Linked DNA regions of Homo sapiens. The protein of the gene in region 1 interacts with the protein of each later gene in a pairwise test. Each region holds a gene or a part of one and is shown on either strand. Other genes may lie near its edges.

The links. The genes of interacting proteins can lie anywhere in the genome.
Region 2: the proteins of FGFR3 (region 1) and DPF1 interact in binary tests that used the Homo sapiens proteins (3 or more experiments, as listed by UniProt).
Region 3: the proteins of FGFR3 (region 1) and KRTAP19-7 interact in binary tests that used the Homo sapiens proteins (3 or more experiments, as listed by UniProt).
Region 4: the proteins of FGFR3 (region 1) and PPARA interact in binary tests that used the Homo sapiens proteins (3 or more experiments, as listed by UniProt).

The regions. Positions count from the first base shown.
Region 1 is NC_000004.12:1,796,293-1,799,792, forward strand, and holds part of FGFR3 (fibroblast growth factor receptor 3 isoform 1 precursor), read left to right. Parts: intron 1-2,961; coding exon 2,962-3,231; intron 3,232-3,454; coding exon 3,455-3,500.
Region 2 is NC_000019.10:38,217,723-38,221,222, reverse strand, and holds part of DPF1 (zinc finger protein neuro-d4), read left to right. Parts: intron 1-2,164; coding exon 2,165-2,292; intron 2,293-2,560; coding exon 2,561-2,650; intron 2,651-3,346; coding exon 3,347-3,425; intron 3,426-3,500. UniProt on the Homo sapiens protein: May have an important role in developing neurons by participating in regulation of cell survival, possibly as a neurospecific transcription factor. Belongs to the neuron-specific chromatin remodeling complex (nBAF complex).
Region 3 is NC_000021.9:30,560,375-30,562,458, reverse strand, and holds KRTAP19-7 (keratin-associated protein 19-7), read left to right. Parts: upstream 1-1,144; 5' UTR 1,145-1,169; coding exon 1,170-1,361; 3' UTR 1,362-1,584; downstream 1,585-2,084. UniProt on the Homo sapiens protein: In the hair cortex, hair keratin intermediate filaments are embedded in an interfilamentous matrix, consisting of hair keratin-associated proteins (KRTAP), which are essential for the formation of a rigid and resistant hair shaft through their extensive disulfide bond cross-linking with abundant cysteine residues of hair keratins.
Region 4 is NC_000022.11:46,240,891-46,244,255, forward strand, and holds the end of PPARA (peroxisome proliferator-activated receptor alpha), read left to right. Parts: 3' UTR 1-2,865; downstream 2,866-3,365. UniProt on the Homo sapiens protein: Ligand-activated transcription factor. Key regulator of lipid metabolism. Activated by the endogenous ligand 1-palmitoyl-2-oleoyl-sn-glycerol-3-phosphocholine (16:0/18:1-GPC). Activated by oleylethanolamide, a naturally occurring lipid that regulates satiety.

The DNA of each region.
Region 1 (3,500 bases):
AACCCTGGCAAGCCCTCTTTAGCCTGCCCAGCCTCCAGATCCCTTTTTTCCGGACTTTATTGTGAAACTCCAGGTGGGGAGACAGGGAGGCTGGACTTTTGGGGGCCCCCTCCTCTTAGGCTATTTTATAGCTCCTACCTGGCAATACCTCCTGTACCCCAGAGAGCTGCAGAGAACTTCATGTGCATCCGAAACCAGAATGTGTTGTTTCCTGACCCCAGGCCCTCATCTCACCCCAAAACCCAAATAAACCCCTGGGGCAGCCAGCTCCGGAAGCGAGTCTGGATTTGATCCTTGTTCTCTGGGGTCAACCCGAGGGGCTTATGATGGAGCAAGGCTCCCCCATCCTCTCAGCCATGCTCCCTCACATGCACTGGGCCTCCACTGCAGAGACCCAGAGCCTGGAGAAAGGTTCCCCAGGCCAGAGTTTGGCCGTCCCCAGCACCCTGCCTAATGGACATCAGTCTTGGGGCCAGAGACCCAGGGCAGGGAGCGCCTCTCACCCCTACCCTCACTCCTGCAGCCATTTCAGGGCCTGGTGCCCTCCCTGAGCTCCTGGGCCTGTGGGGTGGGATTTTTACTTTGTGCCACAGTGGGGGAAACTGAGGTACAGGACCAGTGAGTGGCAGAGTTGTGGAGACTCTGGGACACAGCAGAGGGCTGTCGTTGGCATGTGGAGCCCAAGTTGAGGTCGGCACTGTGTGGGGTTGGGGCGCCGGCAGGAGCACGTGTTGTGGGATCCATAGAAGGGTGGGAGGTGGGACGCGTTGCCTCCTACCCCGCCTTGGGTACAGCAGGAGTTTTGTCTCCAACGTGTTTGGGCACCAGTGTCTGTGTGGTGTCAGTGGGGCCTCCCTTTTGTGGATCAAGAAAGAAAGAACCCTTCCTAGGGCTGCTGGGGGGCTATAGCTCTCCCCATGCCTGGCAGCTGGGTGGGGTATGGGGGCTCCACCCAACTGCTGACTTCCCAGTGGGAGTCAGACCCTGAACTTATAGCACCCACTCATGCCCCGTGTCACACTGTCCTTCACCTGGTGCTCGCCACCCAGCCCCTGCTGGGGTACCCTGGCCTCTGCTGGCACCTAGCAGGCAGGCAGTGGGGGGGGCAGTCAGGGCTGCACCCTCCCCACCACACACGGGCAGATGGCCACTGGTGTGGCTGGCCTGGGGCTGCTGTGTCCCCCGTCCCCCCGTGCTGGACCAGGCTGAAGCAAATACTTGTGTGGATGGCTTGACCTGTTGTCGCCACTCAGACCAAACCGGAACCAACCGGCTGTTGCCCTTGGGCCAGGGCCTGCAGCTGAGGCTGCCATAACCAGCCTGTTCTCGGCCTTCTGGGGGGCCTCGAGCAGCTCCCAGCTCTGGGTGGTCCCCACAAGACACTGGCCAGGACCGGAGGGCTGGAGGTCAGGCCAGGAGCCCCCCTGACTGCGGGGTCCCTACAGGGGCAGTCCTTGAGCTGTGGGTCCCGGTGGGGCGAGGGCTCCTTCGGATGCTTCAGGGGATGAGTGTGGGCCCTTCTGGCTGGCAGGGTCACCCTGGGCACTAGGCGTGTGTGGCTGGATCAGGTGGGTTGGGCAGAAGAGGGCCTGGCCGGGCAGCCAGGGACTGGTGTGGCCAGAGTGGGCAGCTGGGCCCCCGAATCTAGGCCACGCGTCTGCAGAATGACAAGTGATGGCGCAACCCGCCCAGCTGGGTCTGAAGAAGGAGGCTGCCTGGGGGACCACCCACCCCCGTCCCGGCCCCAAGCCCGGGACGCCTGCCTGCATGCATTGTCTGGCCCTGGCAGGGAAGCCTAGGGGCGATTGTCCCCCCAGCCCTGCCCATGGTGTGTCCTTGGGTCACAGGCTTTGGTGGCTCTGGGGAGCTGGGCAGCTACTGGGGAGGGACCCAGGGGCCACCTGCACATCTGCCCCTGTGGGTGGGCCCCCACCCCAGCTTCTCAGCCCCCAGGGAGGGGCCAGGGCTGCTGACCTGCCCTGGCTCTCACAGCTTCCTGCCCCCAGCCTGGTCGTCCTCTGTGAGGGGGCCCCAGTCCCCCTGCAGGCAGCAGGACTCCACCCCCCGGCCCCCTTGAGGGCCCGCCTGGGCCTCCCCACTCCCCGGCCTGTGAGACCCACTTGGCCGGACCCAGCGCCGTGTTTGTACTTTGCTCTTCTCGGTATGTTTTCCGTCATGACCGCCGTGTGGAGCTTCCATAGGAGCTGCAGGATACAGAACCTTGCCCACCCCAAGGAGCCCCCACCCCCGCCCCGGCCCCCTCGCGCTGCTCCGGCCTGTGCTCTGACCGGTGAACCCGCGCATCGCCCCCCAGACCGTCCACACGGCCACGTGACCCTGCACCTCCTTCCTTCTCGCCTGTTCTGTTCCCTGGCTGTCCATCTGAACTGCTTTTCAGGCTCATATGGGGTGCGGGGGCTACTGAGGACGGACCCCTCCTGGGGTGAATCTGCACCACGAGGGGGCTGGCTGGCCAACCCTGGCACCCCCTCTGAGCTCCATTTCAGTCAGAGGCCAGCAAAGGGCAGCCTGTCCCCTTTGCCCGCAGCACCTGCCCGTCGTGGTGCCGCCTGTGAGACAAGCATGGATTTTATGTTTCCAAGCAATTGAACAAATTAAAAGAACGAAGAGTCACATTTTGTGACACTTTGAGATTTGAATTCTCCGTGTCCATGAGTGAAGCATCATGGGGCCACTGCTGTGGGGTTGGCTGCAGGTTGTGTGGGGAAGGCGGCTGTCACACCGAGGCAGACCGGAGTCCTTGGGACAGACTGGTTGGCAAAGCTGAAGATAGAGACCTTTGGCCCTTTTGGGACACAGTTTCCAGCCCCTGGTCTGGTGGGACCCTGGATCTGGGTCAGAGCCTTCCTCACTCAGGGCCGCCGAGGCTTCCACTGCTGTGTCTGTAAACGGTGCCGGGTTTGGGGGTGCCTGCCTCATGGTTGCCCATCTTCCCCACAGAAGTCCCGGGCCCAGAGCCCGGCCAGCAGGAGCAGTTGGTCTTCGGCAGCGGGGATGCTGTGGAGCTGAGCTGTCCCCCGCCCGGGGGTGGTCCCATGGGGCCCACTGTCTGGGTCAAGGATGGCACAGGGCTGGTGCCCTCGGAGCGTGTCCTGGTGGGGCCCCAGCGGCTGCAGGTGCTGAATGCCTCCCACGAGGACTCCGGGGCCTACAGCTGCCGGCAGCGGCTCACGCAGCGCGTACTGTGCCACTTCAGTGTGCGGGTGACAGGTGAGCTCTGGGGCCACGCCAGCTACAGAAAGGAGCCGAGTGCCGGGCTCCCTGAGTCCCTGCGTGGGTCAGGAGCGGCTGGGGGTCTCTCTGGTCATTGGTGGAGAGGAGGGCACCCCCAGGAAGTGCTGCCCAAATGGGGGACCCTGCCCCATCTGGGAGGGGCACCTGGGGGCCTCCTGGGGCAGGTTGGGCATTGGTTGCGGCCATCTCTGCCTTGCAGACGCTCCATCCTCGGGAGATGACGAAGACGGGGAGGACGAGGCTGA
Region 2 (3,500 bases), on another chromosome or scaffold:
GGTGTCTGCCTCTGTATCTCCCCAAGGGCGTCTGGATGTCTCAGTGTCTGGTTGGAGCTCTTTCCTCTCTTAGGTGTATCTTCCCAGGTGTCTCCAAGTGTCTTAGAAGGCTTGTGTCTTGTGTATGTCTGGTCTGTCAGGGTGTCCGGCTCCTCCCGAGTGTGTCTGGGTGTGTTAGGCGGTGCGGCCGTCTCTTTCTGTGGGTGTGTGGGTGCCTCGGAGTGTCTGGGAGAATCTTCCTGATGGTGTCTGGCGTATCAGGTGTATTTCTGCACGTGTGTGCCAGTCCATCAGAGGATCTGGACTTACCCTTGAATGTGTTTAGGAATATCGGGATCCTCGGGGTCAGTTTCTCTTCCTGAGTCCGAGGGTCTGTGTGTACCCAGGAGCGTGGCAGTGCCCACCTGGCTGTGTCTCTTCCTGTCTGTCTCCTGTGTGTGTTTGTGTGTATCTAGCTGAGTGATTCTCCCTGAGTATGTCGGTATCTCCCCGCTATGTGTCCAAGCATCTCATCTGGCTGTGTCTTCCCCAGGGTCTAGGTGTATCTGGAGGGCTAATTGTTTCTTTCTTTTTTTCTTTTTTCTTTTTCTTTTTCTTTTTTTTTTTTGAGACGGAGTCTTGCTCTGTCGCCCAGGCTGGAGTGCAGTGGCGCGATCTCACTGCAAGCTCCGCCTCCTGGGTTCACGCCATTCTCCTGCCTCAGCCTCCCGAGTAGCTGGGACTACAGGCGCCTGCCACTACGCCCAGCTAATTTTTTGTATTTTTAGTAGAGACGGGGTTTCACCGTGTTAGCCAGGATGGTCTCGATCTCCTGACCTCATGATCTGCCCGCCTCGGCCTCCCAAAGTGCTGGGATTACAGGCGTGAGCCACCGCACCCGGCCTCTTTCTTTCTTTCTCTTTCTTTCTTTCTTTCTCTTTCTTTCTCTCTCTCTCTTTTTCTTTTCTTTCCTTCCTTCCTTTCTTTCTTTCTTTCCTTCCTTCTTTCTTTCTTTCTCTCTCTTTCTTTTTCTTTTCTTTCCCTCCTTCCTTCCTTCTTCCTTTCTTTTTTTTTTTCACCCAGTTTGGAGTGCAGTGGCACGATCTCGGCTCACTGCAACCTCCGCATCCCGGGTTCAAGTGATTCTCTGCCTCAACCTCCTGAGTAGCTGGGATTACAGGCATGTGCCCCTACACCCGGCTAATTTTTGTATTTTTTTTTTTTTAAGTAGAGATGAGGTTTTACCATGTTGGCCAGGCTGGTCTCAAACTCCTGACCTCAAGTGATCCACCCGCCTCAGCCTCCTAAAGTGTTGGGATTACAGGTGTGAGCCAACGCGCCTGGCCAGCTAATTGTCTCTGAGCATTTCTGAGTGTACCCATGGGTCCAGCTATGTCTCCTCCCTGTGTCTGGGTGTCTCCAAGGATCTGGCTATACCTCTTTGAGTCTCTAGGCTGTATCTGAGAGTGTGGCTTATGCCTGTAATTCCAGCACTTTGGAAGGCCGAGGCAGAGGATCGCTTGAACTCAGGAGTTTGAGACCAGCCTGATTAACACGATGAAACCCCATCTCTACCAAAAATACAAAAATTAGCCCAGTGTGGTAGCATGCCAGCTACTCTGCCTGTAGTCCCAGCTACTCAGGAGGCTGAGGTGGGAGGATCACTTGAGCCTGGGAGTCGCAGTGAGCTGAGATTGCGCCACTGCACTCCAACCTGGGTGACAGAGCGAGACCCTGTCTCAAAAAAAAAAGAAAAAAGACAGCATGGCTGGGCCTCTTCCTTCCCGCATCTGTCTCAGACGATCTGTCTGGATGTCCCCTGCGGGTGTCCCTGTGTCTCCTCTGCGAGTGTCTGGATCTGTCCATATTTGTCTGGGTATGTTTGAGAGTCGCTGTGTCTTCCCTGAGTAGGTCTGGGTGTGCCTGATGGCCTAACTGTGTCTTTTTCTGAGGCTTTCTGGTGTATCCAAAGTTCTGACCGTGTCTCCTGCTGTGCATCCCAGGGCATCTGAGGGCGTGACTGGGTCTCCCCAGAGTCTGGGCCTCCCTCCTAGGGCATGTGGTTAAATCCTTGCCTCTGCAGCCTCTTCCCTCCTGCAAAGAGCATGGTCCCCCCACCTGCATAGTTTGAGGAGTCCTCCGGGGTCAACTTCCCCATCTGACCCCCCCATGGCCCTGTCCCCAGACTGTGAAGCACCCCTGAAGAAGGAGGGTGGCCTCCCGGAAGGGCCGGTCCTCGAGGCTCTACTGTGTGCAGAGACGGGGGAGAAGAAGATTGAGCTGAAGGAGGAGGAGACCATTATGGACTGTCAGGTGGGCCCACCTCTGGGGGACCCCCGCTGCATGGCTTCGTCTCACCCCTGCCTGCCACCAGCCCGGGCCCTCACGTTCCTGCTCTGAAACCCCCCCGGTTTCTTCTGGCTGTTGGGCATCCCAGTCACCATCCTCCCAGACTTCATCTCTATTTGGAAGAACTCCTGACTTATACTCTCACCCCCAATCTCCACCTTTGCCCAGAGCCCCTCAAAAGCAGGTCAGTGGCCCCCACTTTCTTGACCCGTCTCCTTTCTCTATTGCCCAGAAACAGCAGTTGCTGGAGTTTCCGCATGACCTCGAGGTGGAAGACTTGGAGGATGACATTCCCAGGAGGAAGAACAGGGCCAAAGGAAAGGTATCACCCCAAGCTTCTCCTCTTCCCCGCTCCCCTCAATGACAGGTCTCATTCATGGAGCAGGTGCAGTGGTCCGCCCCTGCCACAGTCTGACCTCAGTCTGACCTCATTGAATCCCCAGAGCGGCCTGCAGGGGTGGGGGATTTTATACCCATTTTACAGATGAGGAAACTGAGGCTCATCTGTATTAAGCCATTTGCAAAGCAGAGATTATGCAGTGGGTTAGAGCTACCTTCATCCCCATGCCACAGAGGAAGAAGCTGAACCTTGGAGAGGTTCAAGGCCCCACAGCTAGGACATTTGTACAGCTGCAATTTGAATTTGCAAAAGACACTGTTTTCTCACTTTCTTTTTTCTTTTTTTTCTTTTTTTTGAGACGGAGTCTCGCTCTGTCACAGGCTAGAGTGCAGTGGCGCAATATCTGCTCACTGCAACCTCCGCCTCCCGGGTTCAAGCGATTCTCCTGCCTCAGCCTCCCGAGTAGCTGGGACTACAGGCACGCGCCACCATGCCCAGCTAATTTTTCTATTTTTAGTAGAGACGGGGCTTCACCATGTTGGCCAAGGTGGTCTCGATCTCTTGACCTCGTGATCCGCCTGCCTCGGCCTCCCAAAGTGCTGGGATTACAGGTGTGAGCCACCACGCCTGGCCTGTTTTCTCACTTTCTTGGCCCCTCACTCCTGACTCTCCCCACAGGCATATGGCATCGGGGGTCTCCGGAAACGCCAGGACACCGCTTCCCTGGAGGACCGAGACAAGCCGTATGTCTGTGATAGTGAGTCCTTCTGAAGAGGGGGAAAGGCAGAGAGAGGGGTGCCCAGAGACTCCCCACCTCGTGGCCCTCTCCCTC
Region 3 (2,084 bases), on another chromosome or scaffold:
GTTTTGCACATTTACCTCAGTACTTAAAGTGTATATATACATACATACATGTATATATATATATATACATATATATATATATATAGCAGGAGTAGCTGAGCATATATGCTTACTGGTTTCATGTCATTTGCTTTTATTTATATTGATGATATGAAACAAAAATATAAGGCAGCTGGGCATTGTGGGAGAAGATATACCCTAACCTGCAATCTTTGATTTCAAATGCATCTGCTGAACTAAGGCCAATAATCAAAGTACTTAGGTTTTAGTCCTAATCTGCCACTAAGTTTCACTGTTGCGTAACTCTGCTTGTCTCTCTGAATCCATTTTTCTCATCAGTAACAAGAACACTGAAATAAATGATGACTCAAGTCTCTTTAATTCTATAATTATATGATCCTATGATAGTACGAAATTTAGAATCTAGACTAAGATTAAATTTGGGGAGAGGAAACTATTCATAAGGGATTGGCAGGGACTTTATGCACACTTTAATGGTATCTACTAAGCAGGCTGGCTCTACATGAAGCATAATATTTGAGAAATTCCTTTGACATTAATTTGTGACTCTTTTAAAAATTAAATATCATCATTCCACTATAAAATGTGGTTCCCAGCTGACTTTAAAAGCACATTGTATAAAGACATACATCATAGTTGATTGCCATTTCAGAGAACAATAATGTTTCAATTTTTGTGAATTCTTGGCAGAATAAAGATAACATCCTTGGCTTAGAAAAGGCTCAGCAGCCATGGACTGTCAAAGGAAAGAGTGCAATCAGAGGATAAATGTAATTGCATGAGATGCAATTTGAAGAATACTTGAAGCTATAGAGATTTGTTTATGGCATTTGAAACTCAGAAACTCATACATGTACAGTGAATATAAATGCAACTACATTTTATTAGAGGCAAAACACTTATCTAGAAATCCAAATAAAGCAGAAAATAAAACATGTTGTATAATTTCTAAATAACTAGCTTCATAAACAAGGAAGAGAGTGGGATGGGTGTTACAAAACAAGATAGTTGGCATAGTTTTCAGGTAACACGTTCTAAGGGATGACATTTAAAGGTGTGGCTTTCCACATGCATCAGAGTATATATAAATGTTCCTGTCCAGTCACAGTCACCAAACTGACCTACAACAGCTAACCACTTCTGACAACATGAGCTACTCCGGCAGCTACTATGGAGGCCTAGGCTACGGCTGTGGAGGATTCGGTGGCCTGGGCTATGGCTATAGCTGTGGATGTGGCAGCTTCCGCAGACTGGGCTATGGCTGTGGCTATGGAGGCTACAGATACAGCTGCTGCCACCCATCATGCTATGGGGGATACTGGTCTTCTGGATTCTATTGAATAAATACTTGAAATATAGTCTTCTGTGAGATTCCCAATTCTTCCAAGAAACTTTATTCCATAACCATATGGAATTCCATATTCCATAACAAAACAGCTGCTTGGATCACCTGCCTTTTGACAATAGTGTGAAGAAAACTTGATCAACTAGATATTGGCATTTGATTAGTGATGTTCTCCAGATATTCACTTTTTTATTGGCTGGAGAGCCATTATACTCTAAGAAAGATTGTCTTTCAATATCTGATATCTAACCATGAACTTTTTCTCATGTGGTAAATGTGTTTTGAGCCTCAAATTTTTATCACAATAAATGTGCTGTGATGCATTAATATAATCAACCATGGTGATATTTTCTTCTTATAGATAAAAAAATTACCAATACGTTATATGTCACGATTATTTCTTCACCCTCCTCCTCCTCGTCATTCTTCCTGTCCCTTAAACCTTCTTCCTCCCTTTCCATCCCTTTCCTCTCCTTTATCTTCTTTTCTTTATCCCCTTCTCCTTTGTCTTCTTCCTCCTCCTCATCTTTAACATTCTCAATATCTATATTTTCTTGTCCAGGCAAACAGGAATTCTACACCAAAAGGTTAAAGATGCTTCTGTGGTGATAAACTTCTGCTTAATCTTTTAATTCACTATTTCTTGGAGAATATCTTGATAATTTCAGAGCAATATAATAAGAAAAGGTTTTAGCTTGCACATAGATTATAACATTGG
Region 4 (3,365 bases), on another chromosome or scaffold:
TCAAGCCCATCTTCAGACGTCACAGTCTGGAAGTGAAATGTCCACAAACATCTGTGGCAGAAAAGGCTATACGGACCACCCAGTTGTGCTGCAGCTTTACAGAGCAAGGAAGGGTTGTGGCAAATAAATGATTAACCTGCCTCGACTGTGCTGAGGGCAACAAAGGCCATCTCACCAAAGGATTATTCGATGCCATTAAATCATCCCGTGACCTTCCTGCTTCCGAGTCCATGGCCTTTGCCCAGGGCATGTACTCCCCTGAGAGGCCTTCTGCCTAGAAAGATCTATGACTGGGTTCCAAAGTTGAGGCCTAGGTTTTTGCTGGGATTTAGATATTTTCAGGCACCATTTTGACAGCATTCAGGAAAACGGTTATTGACCCCATAGACTAGGGTAAGAATAAAGGCAATAAATTTGGTCTGACTCAGAATATAGGAGATCCATATATTTCTCTGGAAACCACAGTGTACACTAAAATGTGAAATTGAAGGTTTTGTTAAAAAGAAAAAGATAATGAGCTTCATGCTTTGTTTAATTACATAATGATTTCCATTACGCTATTTCTGTGAAATGCAGCAGGTTCTTAAACGTTATTTCAGTGGCATGGGCTGGAAGCTTATCACAAAAAGCCATGTGTGTGGCCTTATCAGAACAGAAAGAGACAGGCTGGTGCCCAAGGCTGCTGCCTGCTCCACCTTTTGCCAGCTCTGGACATCTGAGGACGTCCCGGCAGATCTGGAATGGGGCCCTCAACTGACCATTTGCTTCTCAGAATTTCAGTTTGAGACATGAGAGGTATAATCAGTTACTTTTCTCCCCCCAGAGAAACCCTTTTGTGAGGGGAGAGGAGCTATGGTATGTGGTTCAGCTGAAACACATACAACTGCATCCTTTTGGAGTCCTTTGCCAACAAAAACAGACCAACAGACCAGATGGTGTCCATGTTCAATATCATGTCTTGATGGACGCAGCTGATGACCTCAAATACTTGAGTGGTCTCATGGCTGTTAGATGGATTATTTGAAAAAAAAAAAAAAAAAAGAGAGAAAAAATAATTGATTTTTACATCAGAGATAGCAAACTAAGACCTGGGGAGGGGGGTCAGCTTTTATTTTATTTTATTTTTTTTAAGTTTGCTAGTTGGGTCAAATGTGAGGAGGAGGGAGTCTACCTGCCACCTCTTCTCTTGCCCCTCTTCTGCCCACACATCCAGCATCCAAAATCCATTCATTTAATGAATTGATAAAGTGCCGTGCAAACTGGTGCACAAACAGGCCCCCAGTCCACGCAGCCTGGCTCCTAGGAAAAGTGGTGACCGGGCGTGGGGGGGCATGCCGCAGCCCTGGGACACAGTCGGGCACCTTCCCCGGACCCCCAGGCCTTGGCTGTGCCTCAAGTCAGAGAGGGTCAGCCTTCAGGCCCCGGAGACGAGTGACTGGCCGATCATTTCACAATAAAATCACTCACTTTTGGCAACTTCACTTTTTTTAAGGCACAGTCAGTTCCTTTTCTCATGTACCTCACAAAAGATGAAGACCATGTAGTACTCTTTTTGGTAAAGTTACAGTGTTCATGTTAAATATCACTTTTTTCTACATTGTGTGGTAAAAAGAACTACGTTAATAGCTATATCTTAAATACTGTGATTTGACTTTTTGAAAAATATCCTAATACAAATATTTTACTAACTTACAATCACTCATTTAATAAGAAACATTTGGATTCTTTTGAAATCAGTGTTAATTGACTCATATTCTTAAAAGCCTGGCTCTTGACCCTATTGGAAACACAAAGGAAGCTGAAATCAAACATCTAAAATACACTGCGTACACGTGTGCGTGCACACACACACACACACACACACACACACAGCTCTTCATTTCTCCTGAGCCATGCAGAATTTACTTTCAATGTGGAAATCTGTTCCCTTTACCACACTGTATATGCACAGAGCACAAGAGAGGCTATCTCTAGTCACTTCCACCAGCGAGGCCTTAGACTCCGTATTAGAGGCCACCGATTTCATACAACAGTGTTTCGCTAAAGACCCTTCACTATTCTTGTTTAGTAAATAGCTGTCTGCTCTTCAGGGAACTGTTACCTATGGGTTATTACCAAAGAACGCTGGCAATTGGAAATGTCCTGATGGAAATTCTTTGCACGTGCCGGTTCTCTGGCATCCTCCAGGTGGCCCAACCCAAAGCAGAAAGCAGAAACCACAGACCCCGTGAGTCTCCCCATACCTTGTTTCCAATAACTTGGCAAAACTTCTTGGTGCATATTGGTTACACCCTCTGGGATTCATAATGCCATTAGGCTAAAACCCTAAGAGAGAGGGTTGACAGAAACACACGCGAGAATGAGGCAGATCCCAGAGCAAGGACTGGGCCCAGACTCTCCACATGTGCTCTACTAGTGAGTGCCTTATACTCTCAGTATTTTGGGGCTTACAGCTTCTTATTTGTGCTAAAAAGGTGCAGTTCCAAAGTAGGAACTGCCACACAGGCCCCAGCATCCTCTCTCCAACTTCATACCTCTCTCCTGGTGGGGGGAGCGGGCATCCAGGACCTCCGGAATCAAGGATGTGCAGAGAAGAGCGAAAGTAATTTTTCTAGTCACATGAACTGATTGGTTCCAGGCAATTAGAAAATGGCTATAAAATAACCTTAATTTTAAAAAAAAATCTTGGGTCTTCGTTTTCCTATTAGGAGACTGAACTGACCACATGTATTGATTTATATCCTGAATATATGGGAACTTCTGTGTTTGGGATGTCCTACTGTAAGACTGATGAATGTACAGAGTTAATTTCAGGGTACAGTTTTGCCTTAATGGTTTTAAAAAATAAACTATTTTTTAAAATTTTTTGGTGAGTTTTGAGTGATGCTGCGAGATGGACTGTTTGGTCTAAAAGAACCAAGTCCCCAGCTGTGGGGTCCGCCCTCCGCCAGAACAGTCCCTGCGCCCCTCATGGAGGCTGTCTCCACCTGCACAGTCCCTTTTGTGTCCTTCAACATACAGAATGGATCAAGGACAATCTGGCTCCGGAATACGACATCCTTTCGTCTGAAGTCACATACAACGGGAACTTTTAAAGCAGTGAGCATCTTAAAGTCCATCAGTGCACAAGTCAGTAAAAACTCTTTATTCATTCCTTCATGTGACAGTTGGCCTTGAGTAGTTACAAAGACAGAGCAGTTCCTGCCTCTCAGAATTCTAAGCAGACATTCCAGAGCTCACAGATCAGTGTCCCACCAGCTGCTACCCTGGAAGCTTCAGGGAGATGGGGAGCCTGGAGTAGGGGGGTGCTGCAGGAACCCCCGGCAGGCAGTGGGGCCAGGCTTCACAGGCACCCAGGGCTGAGT